2 separate regions of the Homo sapiens genome follow, and region 2 is linked to region 1. The links come from fine-mapping of genetic effects on gene expression. A gene starts in region 1. The other region holds a variant in brackets. All regions are shown on one strand. Distances are between the middles of the regions. Region 1 holds the start of ALDH1L1-AS2 (ALDH1L1 antisense RNA 2). Region 2 holds the start of LOC124909426 (a long non-coding RNA gene).

What was found.
Region 2: its variant is fine-mapped to the expression of ALDH1L1-AS2 in testis (GTEx, PIP above 0.99).

Annotation. Positions count from the first base shown.
Region 1 is chr3:126,176,778-126,182,146 of GRCh38, forward strand. ALDH1L1-AS2 (ALDH1L1 antisense RNA 2) reads left to right here and starts at 3,288. Exons shown (of 2, transcript NR_046383.1): 1 at 3,288-3,767. It overlaps ALDH1L1 (aldehyde dehydrogenase 1 family member L1), which reads right to left and starts at 3,809. Exons shown (of 23, transcript NM_012190.4): 1 at 3,699-3,809. RefSeq lists enhancers at 3,469-4,224, 4,225-4,978.
Region 2 is chr3:126,207,962-126,213,330 of GRCh38, forward strand. ALDH1L1-AS2 (ALDH1L1 antisense RNA 2) reads left to right here. Exons shown (of 2, transcript NR_046383.1): 2 at 365-2,208. It overlaps LOC124909426 (a long non-coding RNA gene), which reads left to right and starts at 5,071. Exons shown (of 3, transcript XR_007096060.1): 1 at 5,071-5,369. RefSeq lists an enhancer at 168-1,367. The variant G/T (reference allele first, on the strand shown) is at 3,201.

The DNA of each region.
Region 1 (5,369 bases):
AAAGACAAGCCATGGTTGGGGAGAGAAGACATATCTGGTAAAGCACTGTTATCCAAAATATACAAAGAACTATTAAAACTCAACAGTAAAACAAACAACCCAATTTTAAAATGGGCCAAGTAAATTAACCGACATTCACAAAAGAAGATATACAGATGGCAGAGAAGCATTTAAAAAGATGCTCAACACTGTAAGTCATTACAGATTGCAAATTAAAATATAACAATGAGATACTACTATATGCGTATTAGAAGAGTTAAATTAAGAGCACTGACAACAAATGCTGATGAGGCTGTGGAGCAACAGGAACTCTTATTTATTACTGGTAGAAATGAAAAATTATGCCACCACTATGGAAAAAGGTTTGGTAGTTTTTTATAACACGAAACATACTTTTACCATGTGATCCATCAATCGCTCTTGATATTTACTCAAAGGAGAAGAAAACTAATGTCCACACAAAAACCTGCACACAAATGTTGATAGCAGCTTTATTCACTGCTAAAACTTGGAAGCAACCAAGATATCCTGTAGTATGTGAATGGAGAAATAAACTGTGGTACCTCCACATCCATACAACAGAATATTAGTCAATGATAAAAAGAAATGGGTTACCAAGTCACAGAAAGACATGGAGGATGCTTAAATGCATTTTGCTAAGCGAAAGAAGCCAGTCTGGAAAGGCTATATACCATATGATTCATACATACTATATGACATTCTGGAAAAGGCAAAACTACAAAGGCAGTAACCAGTGGTTGCCAGGGATAGGTAGGGGGGTTGGGGGGTGGATGGGTAGAGCACAGGAGAGTTTTAGGGCAGTGAAACTATTCTCTATGATACTGTAACACTGGATACTCATCATTATATGTTTGTCCAAAACCATAGAAGGTACAACACCAAGAGGGAATTCTAATGTAAATTATGGACTTTCATTAATAACATTGCATCGATATTGGCTCACCAAGTATAACAAAATTGGCCAGGCCTGGTGGCTCACACCTGTAATCCCAGCACTTTGGGAGGCCAAGGCGGGCTGATCACTTGAGGCCAGGAGTTCAAAAGCAGCCTGGCTAACATGGTAAAACCCTGTCTCTACTATTATAAAAATACAATAATTAGCTGGGCATGGTGGTGCACCTGTAATCCCAGCTACTCGAGAGGCTGAGGCCCAAGAATTGCTTGAACCTGGGAGGCAGAAACTGTAGTGAGCTGAGATTGTGCCACTGCACTCCAGCCTAGGCAACAGAGCAAGACTGTTTCAAAAAGAAAAAAGCTGTAACAAAAATATCCTATCAATGCATGATGTTAAAAATAGGGGAGGCCAGGCCTAGTGGTTCATGCCTGTAATCCCAGCACTTTGGGAGGCCAAGGCAGAGGATCACTTGAGCCCTTGAGTTCAAGGCCAGCTTGGGCAACAAAGTGAGACCCATCTCTACAAAAAAATTTTTAAATTAGCCAGGCGTGGTTGTGCATGCCTGTAGTCCCAGCTACTTGGGAGGCTGAGGCATGAGAATCACTTGAGCCCAGGAGTTCAAAGCTGCAGTAAGCTGTGTTTGTGCCACTGCACTCCAGCCTGGGCAACAAAGTGAGACCCTGTCTCAAAAAAAAAAAAAAAGAAAAAAAAAAAAAGAAAGGAAAAGAATAGAAAGAAAAATAGGAGAAAGCGCGCAGGAAGGGACAGACTGAGAATATGGGAACTCTGCACTCCGTCCTCAATTCTTCTGTAAACCTAAAACTGCTCTAAAAATGTCTACTAATTGAAATAAATAAATGAATCTAGCTCTATAGTTCACATCTTACTCTAAAATACAGTCCAATTGGGTTAAAAATAAATACTTGAAAATCAAATATAAGAAGAAAACATTAAATTATTAGAAAATATTGGTAAATATTGAGTTATACAAACCTGACACTGTCAAAACACCCAACAAGTAACAAACCACGATAATTGTGTAAGGCTTAAGTTTGTGTGTGTGTGTGTGTGTGTCTGTGTGTGCATGCGTGTGTTTATCTGCAGGGTAAAAGCCTAGAAGAATTTACACTGAAATGTTGAAAGTTACTGGGTAAAGGGTTTTGGGTTTCAGAGGTTTTTGACGACTGTAATTATTTTGTTTTCTTAACTGAATGTTCTTTTTTTATATTGTACATGATTACTTCTGAAAAAAAAAAATAAAAGAGTATGTCGTTCCCCCCCTGCAGGGAGGCAGAGTCCAGGTGGCCACCAAGGGGCTGTTGTCACAGTCCAGGGAAAGCCAGAATGGCAGGCACGGGAGCCTTGGGAGGGGCCTCAATCAGGCTTGCCCTTTGGCCCCAGAAAGAGCAGGGGCCTGCAGTGAAGCCCATAGAGCCCCTTGTGGGCCGTATGGGCCGCCTCCAGGCCTCCACCTCCTCCCCCAGTCATGGCCGCTCAGTGTCCTTTCACTTGGTGGTGTGGGGACACTGGGAGGCTTCCTGGGCCTCCCAACCCTCCTACCCAATTCCCAGCCCAGGCTTGGCTCTCCAGGACCCAGCTTCTAGTCCCTGTGAGGCTGGGCCACCCTGCAGGACTGCAGCTCTGGGCCCTCTGTTCTGGTGCTAGGGCCCTGGGGCCCATGAATGCAGTTCTAGCACTCGGGAGGCTGAGGCGGGAGAATCACTTGAACCCGGGAGGCGGAGGTTGCAGTGAGCCGAGATCGTGCCACTGCACTCCAGCCTGGGCGACAGAGCGAGACTCTGTCTCAAACAAACAAACAAACAAACAGCAGCCAACATTCTCCGAGGGTTTCCTAGGGCCAGGCGCGGGGCAGTCTCATGTAATTCTCAAGCAATCTTGGGAGGCAGGCACTACTGTTCATTGCCCCTCCCGATTTTAGAGACAAGAAACTAAGATTCAGAACACAAGAAACTTGCCCAAGGTCAAGGAGAAGTGGAGGCGTGGGGAGGAAACAAAGTCACCTGACACCAGAGCCCATGCCTCCAAACTCCAAGTCTGGGACTCCTGATTAAATTCCGTCTCTGTCTGCACTTTGGGAAGATTCTTTCCTCTCCTAGGCAAGTGCCCGCGGGGCCTGAGCTCTCGATAGCGGGGCCCCAGGAGCCACGTTGTGGGGTCTGCTATCCGGCCTCCCTCTGCACGCGCGACCGTCCACTTGAGCGCAGTGGCTGGAGCTGGGACTCCAGCGCAGCCCCTGAGCGCTCACGTCGACCCCTCCAATCACAAGAGGCCCTCGTGCCAGGCCCCCAGATTTGGCCAATCAGGGAAGACCTTTCCCTGTCACAGAATGGGGTCGAGGGGCCCAGGAAACAGGTAGTCCCCAGTCACAAATCATCGCGTCGCCTTCGCTGGTCCCTTTCTCTTATCGAGCCTCAGTTTTCTCTTCCATAAGCCGGGCCAGCAGTGCCCACCCCACAGGTTGGCGCCAGCTCCGTAAGGGCCCTACCACCGCGGCCGGCCAGATCCTCGGCGGGCCAGTCCTGGCGCTGCGGTCATTTAGCCTGATGACCCCTGGCCAGGTTCAGCCTCAATTGCTCCAAAGAACTCCGGACCCGTACCCCGAGCCCGGCGTCCCAGCGGCGAAGTTGATGGGCCCCGCAGGAGCCCTTGCGGTGAGAACCGAGTCCTGGAGCCCCTGGAGCCCCCGGAGCCCCCGGAGCTGCAGCCGGGGCAGCCTCCTTTCCGCCGGGAGTCCAGCGCTCTCGAGAGCCCAGAAACTCACCGCGCGCAGGAGTTGGTGCGGGCGTCCCGGGCAGGTTAGACTTCTGTGAGCCGCAGCCCCGAAACTGAGGTTGGTGCAGACCCGTCCTGGGAGCCAGGAGGTGGGACCTGTCCCCGCCAGTCCGCGAGCTCTGGTTAAGGCCAGAGCCCGTGAGGGGAGGGGCGCGGGGCGGGCGGAGAGTCAGCCGAGTGGGGGCGGCGCTCACCGGTGGTGGGACTATGGCGGGAGCGCAGCGCACCCTCTCCGGGCGGGTCTATAAATGCCATGTAAAAGCCAACCCCGCAGGGGCCTGCGCTCTTTCCCGCTTAGGTCAAGAAGACTTACTGTGGACCCTTGGAGAATTCCCAGGGCTTTGAAAAGTCCCAAGCACCCAGCAGGGCTGGCAGTTCTGAGCGCTGGCAAGGCTAAGTGGGTCAGAGGAGACCCTCGCCAAGCCGGTGACTCACTCACTCGCTCACCCTCTCTCACTCTTGATGGGCCAAGTACCTGCCATGTGCTACGGACACAGCAGAGCGAAAGGAGACGCTGCCCTCCGGGAATTTGCAGCCGCTTGCAGAGGCGGCCCCTTAGCAGCTGCGCATCCGGGTGGATAGCGGCGCTTCTGCCCGCCCAGTGCCTACCCGCCTCTCCGAGAGAAAAACAGCCCCTGGTTTTCTCTCTGCAATTCCCCTTCTCCACTCTCTCCCTTCTACTCAGTCCTGGTGCCGCAGACCCCTCCTCCTGGTTCCCAGAGATCCTGGCCAGCCCGGTCTCAGGCAAGGCCATGTAGAATGCCGGGAGTGATAATTGCGTATTGTTTCATGACTGCAAGCCTGTGTCCAGGTGGCTCCTTCTCCTGGAACACCCTTCCCACCACACCTGCGGCCGCACTGCTCCGTGCCCTGCTAAGCCTCACTTCTTTTGAGGCGACCCTCTCGCTAAGTCCCGACCACCTGGCCCTCTCTCTGCTCAGTGCCTGAACACATCAGGCTTGCTGCAGCCCCTGCCTTTACCTCTCTACTTGTAGTGTTCTTTCAGAGCCTGCTCCCATATGGTATCACATATCAGATATCTGATGCAGAGCCTTAGAGAGGCTGTTCCAGGTCACACAAACTAAGGAAGTCCCTCAGCCACTCCCTGCCACATCACCCTGTTCTATTTCCTTCACAGCACTTAACTGTATATCTGATATTTCCTTGTTTCTTTGTTTGTTCATTGTCTGTCTCTCCCACTAGACTGTAAGCTCTTTGAGGACAGGAAATTTGTGAGATGTATTCACTGTTGTATCCCCAATACACAGTGATGGCTTGTAGCAGTTGCTAAATAAATGTTTGTTGAATGGCTTAATGCATGTATTTTGCTCACATAAGCCAGTATGGGCACCCAGGATTGAGGTGGCCTGTGCCTGCTGATCCACTTAGCCTACTTTCAGGCACTGTCCCCTTGTTCTTTAGGCTCCAGCCTGCAGGTCTCCCTGCTGTCCCTCATATCTGTGGAACTTCTCGACTCATAAAGTTTCCATGTGCCGTTCATCTTTGTCCAGAGAACCCCCATCATTCTTCAGGAAGTTCCTACTAAAATGCCATGACTTCAGGGAAGCTTTCCCTAGCCTCAGCCTTACTAGGACAGATTCCTCCATTATGTGATCACAGAGAGGCCTGTAATTTTTCTTCATGAACCTCTCTCAACTTT
Region 2 (5,369 bases), 31 kb after region 1:
TAGCACTTACTGTATGCCAAGTATTACCATTTTACATACTTTACACATTGTGCTTTACAGCAGAACCTGAGAAACACGCTCATCAAGTCCAGGAAATAAATAGAGGTATCAGCTGTCACTTTTTTATTGTAAAATTTTTTAGTAGTGCAATAAAATAAAAACAAAATAGAATACATAATTATTAAGAGAGAAGACATAAAACATTACTATTTTCAGATACAATGATTTTGATCTGCAGAAGTCTCAAGAGAATAAACAGAAAAATTCCTAAAATTAGTAAGTAAAGCCCTAGCTCCATCACGTACAAGCCTTATGAGCTTAGGTCACTCACTTCCTGTCTCTTCTCTCATCTGAACCTCTGTAGGGCCCTGGAAATGGGGGATCTCCTGCCTTGACAGCTCATCAGTACGTGTGAAAAGCCAACAAGAGTGGATATGATAGGAACTGCAATCACACAGCACTTTGGAGAATGTGAAGATTGGTGCTCACAGCAGAAGTTAACACACTGATGCTGTGATCACTGTTCAGTAGGTGGAATGGTCCTTAGTGATCCTTGAAGAGTAGCTGCAACTGGAAGACACAGAATGGAGAGGGTGGATCATGCAAATGAAAAGATGGGCTCCAACATTCAGCGGAAGGAATTTATGGTTGGTTCCCCCGTTTTTTTGTTGGCGGTGGTGGTTTATTTTCATTCCCCATGCCCGGTCCTTCTGATGGCACTCACTGATTTGGCTCTAGGGCACAAGTCTATGTTGCATGCAGTCCTGGTGTAACAATCAATTGAGGCATTTCCTGGGCGAGGAGCTGGGACACGGGCCAAGCCAATCAGACTCTGGTTCCCCCAGGACGCTGAGTCATAGTGGAGCCATGCCAAGACGGAAACAGCTGACCTGCTGTGCTGCTGCCATGGCTCCCTGAGGAGTGTCCCTCAGTTCCTAAGAGGGGACTGTCTGCACGCTGGCTCTTATGGGTTGATTTTGCACTTTTTCTTTGATTCTGAGAGCTACCCACATCCTCTCCAATTCTTGCTCCAGTCAACCAGACACAGTTTCTATTGCTTGCGGTGGAAGACATGCCCATGCAGAAGGCGTCAAGGCTCTTGGGAAGATGGGGAGTGGCATGTGTTCTCATGGTGTTCACAGCTGCACATGGGAAACACCTCATTGCCTTCGCACAACAAACCCAAGAGGGAGGGGGTTCCTTCCCCAATTCTGCAAATGGAAAAACTGAGGCTCAGAGGGGAAATTGATCTCTCAGTGTCACAGCCAATGAATGACAGAGGGAAAGTTGTGGTCCAGGGCTGAGTCCGGGTTCCACAGTGTGTAGATGAATTTCTTCAACCCCTTCATCATGTGACAAGAGCCACAAGGTCTCCAGGCCTCCTGGACATGACAGGTGTTTGCTCACAAACTGAAACTTTCTCTGCTGGGTCACACCCTCCTCGCCCATCCCTACTCTTGGTGCAGGGCATGAGCTGGACCCTGGAAGACCAATGGGTATTCAACTTTCAGAAAGCCTTGGCGAGGTCTAGTGATGAAATAATTTTGTCATTTGGAATGCTGACAAAAAAAATTTGAATTTTTCGGCCATAGTTTCATTTCCATAAATCACTTCATTCTTATCCTAATCCTTCCCCAACTGTTTGTCAAAATTCCCATCAAATATTTTTCCACTTGGAAGACTGATTTTTAACACTCATACCCCACCCCCACCAGGCCACGGTGTGGACATTTTTCATTCCTAAAGTCAGGAGGCCAGAGACATTTCCAAGAGAGATCAAAGCACTTGCTGGCCACGTTGGAAAATGAGAAGGGAGGATAAGGGTGTGAAGGGGCATCCTGCCTCCAGGAGGGACCCCCTCCAAGTGAGTTAAGAGATGTGGGCCAGGAGGGCTGAGCAGTAGCATCCACTGGGAAGCCCTGGGCTCCAGGCCCAGCCCTGTAGCTGCCTCACTGGACAAGCCCTTCCAGCTGGCCTCGGAGGACATGGACCATCTTCCCGGGTTTGGCTGTGTATCCCAGTAGCACCATGGAGTAGCCAGGGCCCTTGGCCAGGCCACTAAACTACACCGTACCCCCCTTGTCATCTGTTGCATGCAGGCATCAGAATTTACCTTTAAAGAAGTGTTTCTCAAACTTGAGTCACTTAGTTTTCATGGCATATTTATACAATATATGTGCGATTATTAAAAGTTTCCTTTAAATCAAATTATTGCCTTTGTTTAAATATCTTTCTGTAACTTGCACATATCATCACTGAAGATGGAAAACCAGTATCACATGCCGTAAACAAAGGGTAACTAAACAAAATAGCACAACTATAAAATAACAGATTTCATATGTCCCCTAAAATCAACTTGTGTACTACCAGTGATATGCACACCCAATTTTGGAAACACTACTTTAAGGGGGTTGGGATATGAACTCAAATACCTCCAACTCTAATATCCCCAAGTCCTTCAATTATCAGGGGTTTCTATTTCATAATTTAAAAAACAAGCAGCCTGAATCCACATTCTACATGCGATGGCAAGTCTCCTCCCACCCATTTCTTCTTCCCTTAGGAGACTTTTGTGGATTTCCAAAAGGTTCATGTTTTTCAGGAACAAACCAATGGCCAAACCGTGGTGTGGTGGGGGTTGAGGGGTGTGAGCTACCTCCTTTCCCACAGTGCCTAGCTCCTCGCTGGCAATCCATGTTCCATTGATGCCCAGATTTACACACCAAGCCTCTCTCCTGAGCTGCAGATGTGTGCACCTGACCATACACTTGGCAATTCTCTTTGGCTATCTTGTTGACGCCTCAGCTTAGCACACTGAAGACAGAACTCCAGACCTTTGCCCTAATCCTGCTTTCTCCAGGCTTCTCTGCCAGGGGGAGTGGCCATTCCCCAGGTCCTCATGTTTCCACAGGGGCAGAGACCACGTCTGTCCCATTCCCTGCTCTATGTCCTATGCCTGGCCGGAGTAAGAGCTTGTATGGGCCAGCTTAAGCTGTCATACCAAAGAACAAACGACCCCACGTCCTAGGGACTTCAAATAACAAAGGTTTATTTCTCTCGCATATTTATGCCTCTCTCAGCATGGCTGGGTCTTGATCCATGTCAGCTTCATTCCAGAATCAAGGCTGATGCAGCAGCCCCTACCAGACGTGCCAGGCTGCTGCCAAGGGAGAAAGAGCGACAGTGCAGCCACCGATGGC[G/T]CCTGGAGCTGCCACATCTGCCACACTGCTCATTGCCCGTGGCAGAGACTGAGTCACGAGGGCCGGGAAGCTCCGTCTCCAGGGAACAACTTGGGAATAACTGCACAGCCTCCCACAGTGCTTGACAGATACTGATTGGATACTGATAGGAATAAGGTGTCACAGGCAGCTTCCATCATGATCAGCTTCCATCATGGATCATGAAGTTCACATGAAGATTAGAAAGTGGGCTTCATGCTTGGGTGGGACACAGAGCTCACCCACTGGCTGAGATATTCATTTCTCACACAGGTGAAGTCAAAGGCCTTACACACAGGACCCCCACACCCACAGGCCTCACACTTGGCCCTGGAGGCTGCAGGCTGGCAGCCCAGTGTGTGGGGTCCCCCTGCTAAGCCCCTCCAGCCTGCCCCTATCCACACCCGTCCTCCGCCTCTGCATCTGACCCGGCTCCCACATCACACCGCTGGGGGCTCCTACCTCCTGTGGGCCTCACTGCCTAAGAGTCTTTGAACCTCTTAGTCACTCTGAGCCTTCCATGGTTTGGTCCTTGGAAACCAAAGGCTCACACAAGGTCCCATCTAAGGGGCCTGCCCAGGAGGCAGATCTGGTCAGTCAAGTCCTCTCTCAGCAGGAGTCCCCTGCAGGCAGAGACTCACGGCTGCTGAGCCAGGAAGTCAGGGCCACAAGACTTATAGCCCTGGCAAGTCTCCAGGTAGTTGACACTGGATACACTGCCATGGTGGGGCTGGAGGGTCAGCGGGCGGTAGGTCAGGATGTCAAAAACAGGGGAGATTGACCCTATAGATACACCTGTATGAGCACAAAATGGCAAGCACACAGCCCAAGTTCCTATCCACAGGGTGTCCGTTGAAAAGATCATGGGTACACCTTGGAGCACTTGAGGCGGATGTCAGAAAGAATGAAAAAGCTCTGTGCAGGCCTATGGAAAGGGCTCTGGGACTGAGGAAGGAAGGAGAGGGGGAAGGGAGGAAGGGAGGGAGTGAAGAAGGAAGGAAGGACGGAAGGAAGGAAGGAAGGAAAGGAGGGAAGGAAAGGAGGGAGAAGGGAAGGAAGAAAGAAGGAAGGAGAGAAGAAGGAGGGAGGAAGGAAGAAGAAAGGAAGGGAGGAAGGGAGGGAGGAAGGGAAGGAGGAAGGGAAGATGGAAGGAGGGAAGGAAGGAGGAAGGGTGGAAGGGAAGGAGGAAGGGAAGATGGAAGGAGGGAAGGAAGAAGGAAGTAAAGAAGGAAGGAGGAAGGGAGGAAAGAAGGAGGGAGGGAGGAGGAGAGAGGGAAGGAAGGAACGAAGGAAGGGAGGAAGGAAGGAAGGAAAGAGGGAAGGAAGGGAGGAAGGAATGAGGAAGGGAGGAAAGAAAGAGGGAGAGAAGGAAGAAGGAAGGAAGGAGGGAAGGAGGAGAGGAGGGAGGGAAAGCAAGAAGGCGGGAGGAAGGGAAGGAAGGAGGGAGGCGGGGAGGGGTACACAACAAGGGCAGCCTAGGCTCCGGTTGCTGTGACAAAGAAGCGGAGTGGCCCTGCTGCATTCTTTTGCTGGCATTTGGCATAAGCCTGTGATAGATAAAGAGCAGAAGGTGCCTTTAGGGGGCACCGAAGAACAGGGTCGATAGGGCTGGGGGAAAGCAAGTATTTCAAAGCTAACTTTTCCATCATTTTTGTGTTTGAACCATGTAAATGTATTGCCTGTCCCCCTAAAATGGATTAATTGAGAAGAGAGCGAGACCACGCCGAGCCTCGGGCCATCACAGCCTGAATGGGAAGCAGCGAACCCCGCTGTGACGGCTTCAGGCCCCGGCCTGTGGAGGGTGGGGGAGTCGCCCTTGGGAGGGGCTGGGCCCCACCGCCGGCTCTGCTTCTCACGGCAGGGGCGCCCCCAGGAAGGGACAGGACAGGGAGCTTTGTCCCGCAGCGAACGGGAACGCGGAGGCCCGGCCTCTCGCCTCCCCACCCTCCCCACCCTCCCCGCGCCTTCTCGGGCCTCCGCGTCCGCCCTGCGCCCTCGGAAGGCGCCGCCCGGCGGCCGCGGCCCTTCGCCGCAGCCAGAGTGCTTTGTCCGAGCTCAAAAAAGCCGTCTCCATGGAAGCGGCCCTTCCGCTCGGAGCCCGGCGGCCTGGAGGGAGACCCGGCGGGGATGCGAGGATTCCGCCCCAGCCCC